Linked DNA regions of Homo sapiens: region 2 is linked to region 1. Evidence: fine-mapped expression QTL. Tissue or cell type: whole blood. Region 1 holds a variant in brackets; the other region holds the start of a gene. All regions are shown on one strand. Distances are between the middles of the regions.

Region 1 (2,766 bases):
CAAGAGAACACAAGATTTAAACTTCCATTGTAATTTTGTTATTTTAATTAGAGGAACTTCTTAGCATATATTAAACTGGTCAGTTTTAAATCTATGTATTTTTCAAGTTAAAAAGTAAAATGCTCAAGTTTGCAATAAAAGCAATGTAAAAGGGAAAGATATATGAAAGCAATAACACATTCACTTGGACTTTGAAATATAAAAGACAGGAGTGCATTCCATTTTCAAAACAGCAATAATGCTTTTTTCTGTTTCTTTTTTCTTCTTTTCATTAAAAAAAAAAACAGAACTACAGAATATCAGTTAAGCACCCTGGAAGAGAGAGGTAAGTTCTAAATTTTTGCACATTTTCTATGACATTCAGCTGCTTTCTATTAACTACATGCCACTGATAAAAAGTAAAGTGAGGCTGTTTTAGTCTGTTTTCTGCTGCTGTGACAGAATACCTGAGACTGGATAATTTACAAACAATAGACGTTTACTTGGCTCACAGTTCTGGAGGCCAGAAAGTCCAATATCAAGGTGCCGGCATCTTGTAAGGGCCTTCTTGCTGTGTCATCCCATGGCAGAAAGTAGAAGTGCAAAAGAGTGTCCATGAGAACCAGAGAGCAAGAGGAGGCTAATCTTTCTTTTAGAACTAGCCCACTCTCACAATAACTAACCCATTATCATGGTAACCACATTAATCCATCCATGAGAGAAGAGCCCTCATCATCTAATCACCTTTTACTAGGCCGCACCTCCCAACACTGTTACATTGGGGATTAAGTTTTCCACACATGAACTCCAGGGAACACATTCAAACCATAGCAAAGGCCAATTCTCAAGGGAGCAGATATGACACCAGGGATTCTAAAAATCTTGTACATGGCATAAAGAAACCCTCCACATGGGAACTTGGGCACACTCCTCAGAATGGGGTGATTTTCTTGGCCTGTGCTATTGCTATCTTGAAACATCCTGACATCCTGAAAAGGAAAAACAAGACAAAATTTGAATTCCACTTAAATTCAAGATAATTTATTTCTTGAATTTTTAAGAGTAGGACATTTGTAAATTTGGGGAGAAGCACATTTTCTGCATCTATTTATAAAATGGACTTAAGATTTTTTGAGAAAGAGGATGGGTTTAACATATTTTTCTAAAAGAAGGAAATAAGTAAAAAGAATAATAATTTAAAGTTGAATATTATAAATCAGCAGAGTCATGTGCCTGAATTAACATTTAATGTTTAATATGAATTCAGATATAAAGAAAACCAGGAAGATTAAGACAGTCGTGCAAGAAGTAGTGGATGGCAAGGTCGTGTCATCTGAAGTCAAAGAGGTGGAAGAAAATATCTAAATAGCTACCAGAAGGAGATGCTGCTGAGGTTTTGAAAGAAATTTGGCTATAATCTTATCTTTGCTCCCTGCAAGAAATCAGCCATAAGAAAGCACTATTAATACTCTGCAGTGATTAGAAGGGGTGGGGTGGCGGGAATCCTATTTATCAGACTCTGTAATTGAATATAAATGTTTTACTCAGAGGAGCTGCAAATTGCCTGCAAAAATGAAATCCA[G/A]TGAGCACTAGAATATTTAAAACATCATTACTGCCATCTTTATCATGAAGCACATCAATTACAAGCTGTAGACCACCTAATATCAATTTGTAGGTAATGTTCCTGAAAATTGCAATACATTTCAATTATACTAAACCTCACAAAGTAGAGGAATCCATGTAAATTGCAAATAAACCACTTTCTAATTTTTTCCTGTTTCTGAATTGTAAAACCCCCTTTGGGAGTCCCTGGTTTCTTATTGAGCCAATTTCTGGGTTAATCTTATTGATTTTTCAGCATCAGTACAACTCTACAACCTTTGAGCTATATCTGCTTTTTCCCATTGCTTCCACTGCCTTTTAAAACTCAACACAGCTTTTTGAATAATTTGAGAGTCAAATTCAATCACAAATGCTGAGCAGAATAAGAGTGAAGTACACTATACTTAAAATGGAAATAGATTAAAAACAACATTACTGAAACCCTTCTCAAGGCAAAATGTGTCTCCTTTTGATAATAAGCTGCATATACTATCAGGTCCTCTCTTTCTTTATATGGTGAACATATATTTTTAATGAAATGTCTCTCATTTTTTTAATAACAGATTTATTGAGATATAATTCACACACCATGAAATTCACCCTTACAAAACGTACAATTCAGTGGTCTTCAGTATGCTTACAATGTTTTGCAACCATCACCACTATCTAGTTTTAGAACACTTCATCACCCCAAAAGGAAATCTTGTACCTATTAGTAGTCACCGCCTTTTCCCTTCCTCCCAGCCCCTAACAACCACTAATCTACTTCCTGTCTCTACGGATTTGCCTACTCTGGACATTTCATATAAATAGGTTAATACGATGTGTCCTTTTATACACAAATGTTCATAGCAGCATTACTCATAAAAGCCCCAAAGCGAAACACCTCAAGTGTCCATCAACCGATGAATGGATAAACAAAATGTAATATATCCACACAATAGAATCTTATTCGTCAATAAAAAGGAATGAAGTACTGATACATGCTATAACAGAGATGAACTTCGAAAACATGCTAAGTGAAAGAAGCCAAATCCAAAAACAATAAAAACACATATTGTATCCTCACCCTTTTTGCATTTTAGTGAGCAATCATTGCATATGAATGTTTATGGGAAAAATCAATGTGTGCTAAATCATTGTATTCCAGTAAATAGATTGGACTTAAAACTTGATACAGAAGTT
Region 2 (2,517 bases), 57 kb after region 1:
TAGAGCAAGGAACTGACTACAGAAATTGATAATAACATTGAACAGATATCCAGCTATAAATCTGAGATTACTGAATTGAGACGTAATGTACAAGCTCTGGAGATAGAACTACAGTCCCAACTGGCCTTGGTATGTTAACTCTCATGAAATGACTTCAACTTTATCATACAAAGTTTCATGCTCACCTAAGAATATGCAATGCAACAAAAAAATGCAGAGTTGGAGGTAAGAAAGAGAAAACAAAGTGAAGCTCATGTTAATGGAGGAAAAGTACTACTAGTGTTGATCTAAAAGTGCTGAAACTGAAATGGTGCCATTAAACATACAACAAATTCTGTTCATTTTCTTATTCTTCTATATAATGCCTTACTAAATAATCAAATAAGCGTCACCATACTCAACTGAACAAGGAAGTCACTAAGCCACAAAAAAATCCGTTTCAGAAACAATCCCTGGAAGCCTCCTTGGCAGAAACAGAAGGTCGCTACTGTGTGCAGCTCTCACAGATTCAGGCCCAGATATCCGCTCTGGAAGAACAGTTGCAACAGATTCGAGCTGAAACCGAGTGCCAGAATACTGAATACCAACAACTCCTGGATATTAAGATCCGACTGGAGAATGAAATTCAAACCTACCGCAGCCTGCTAGAAGGAGAGGGAAGGTAAATTTTAAAATGAAAAGTTATCCCAGTTTCTTTTATTCAATATTCCAGATAGCAAGGCTTATCTAAACCCCAAGAAGATGCCAGAGAATGAGAGGAAGGGAGGAGAGAGGGTAGAGTACAGAAAAAGGAGTACGCAACCGCAATCTCACTTTCTCATGAATTTGGCCCAAAATGATTCTTAAGAGTTCTGTGAACTTAACATTGTTTTCAAAGGATGGGTTTTAAAATATATACCTGGCAGGGTTTTATTTTTTCAACACGTTTTGCTTATTTTCTAAATTAACGGCAACTGGAAAGCTACCCACCGTTTTCCAACGTTAGAGATAACCGAATGTGACCTCACCCCGTTTAGTTCCGGAGGCGGCGGACGCGGCGGCGGAAGTTTCGGCGGCGGCTACGGCGGCGGAAGCTCCGGCGGCGGAAGCTCCGGCGGCGGCCACGGCGGCGGCCACGGCGGCAGTTCCGGCGGCGGCTACGGAGGCGGAAGCTCCGGCGGCGGAAGCTCCGGCGGCGGCTACGGGGGCGGAAGCTCCAGCGGCGGCCACGGCGGCAGTTCCAGCGGCGGCTACGGTGGTGGCAGTTCCGGCGGCGGCGGCGGCGGCTACGGGGGCGGCAGCTCCGGCGGCGGCAGCAGCTCCGGCGGCGGATACGGCGGCGGCAGCTCCAGCGGAGGCCACAAGTCCTCCTCTTCCGGGTCCGTGGGCGAGTCTTCATCTAAGGGACCAAGGTCAGCAGAAACTAGCTGGGGTAATCAGAATTAGTTTTAACTTCCTGTGATGGTTTTTTTGCGCTTTAAGCTCTAGAGTTGTTTTAAAAAATTAAAAATCTTAGAGACGGTTCCGTTTGCATTTGTTCACAAACTACTCTTAACACCAGCCGTGAAAAATGGCATGATCAAAATGTCATACCTTAAGCATTTTTTTGGGCTTAACAATGTAAAGTTGAAATTTCCTTCTTTTTACAATATTTGCTTGTTAATTACTAAGGATCCCTACAGACTGTTTAAAATTTTTTTTCCATCATTCACACAGATACTAACAAAACCAGAGTAATCAAGACAATTATTGAAGAGGTGGCGCCCGACGGTAGAGTTCTTTCATCTATGGTTGAATCAGAAACCAAGAAACACTACTATTAAACTGCATCAAGAGGAAAGAGTCTCCCTTCACACAGACCATTATTTACAGATGCATGGAAAACAAAGTCTCCAAGAAAACACTTCTGTCTTGATGGTCTATGGAAATAGACCTTGAAAATAAGGTGTCTACAAGGTGTTTTGTGGTTTCTGTATTTCTTCTTTTCACTTTACCAGAAAGTGTTCTTTAATGGAAAGAAAAACAACTTTCTGTTCTCATTTACTAATGAATTTCAATAAACTTTCTTACTGATGCAAACTATCCCAATTTGTCAGAATTTATCTTTACTTAAGTACATAATACTCTTTAAAATTAAAGATTAGTAACCCATAGCAGTTGAAGGTTGATGTATCCAGAAATTCGGAAGACAGAACTATTGTCATGCCTTTTCTAAGTTTTTTAATCATGTATGTTCAGACCACCGTCAGTAAATTCACTGAGTAAAGTCTGTAAATCCCCAATATTACTCTTTAAGATACACAATATGTGGAAGGCTCCCAGCTCTCTGGCTTTAAATTATTTCAATCCTGGAAATTCTGGAATATCTCAAATAAAACCCCCAAAATAATAATAATTGGAAATTTTATATTTTCTAATTACCTGACTTCTCACCTTTGCCTTTTCTTACTTTCTTCCAGTTACTATATTACTTCTTCCCAATTGTTATATAGCTTGACATATCTTCTGACACCACCCAAGTAAAATCATATCACCCCC

Evidence for each region. PIP is the estimated chance that this variant, and not a neighbour inherited with it, causes the effect.
Region 2: it holds the start of KRT10-AS1, and the variant in region 1 is fine-mapped to the expression of KRT10-AS1 in whole blood (INTERVAL, PIP above 0.99). The same link has a PIP of 0.9 or more in NK cells.

What each region holds. Positions count from the first base shown.
Region 1 is chr17:40,874,939-40,877,704 of GRCh38, reverse strand. KRT20 (keratin 20) reads left to right here. Exons shown (of 8, transcript NM_019010.3): 7 at 288-325; 8 at 1,247-1,816. The coding sequence ends at 1,344. All of the region lies in intron 1 of LOC105371777 (a long non-coding RNA gene), which reads right to left. Among named protein-coding and RNA genes, the nearest start is that of KRT20, 8.9 kb to the left of the region's middle. The variant G/A (reference allele first, on the strand shown) is at 1,562.
Region 2 is chr17:40,817,661-40,820,177 of GRCh38, reverse strand. KRT10-AS1 (KRT10 antisense RNA 1) reads right to left here and starts at 1,033. Exons shown (of 3, transcript NR_160888.1): 1 at 970-1,033. It overlaps KRT10 (keratin 10), which reads left to right. Exons shown (of 8, transcript NM_000421.5): 5 at 4-129; 6 at 444-661; 7 at 1,017-1,391; 8 at 1,696-2,061. The coding sequence ends at 1,702. RefSeq lists an enhancer at 1-523.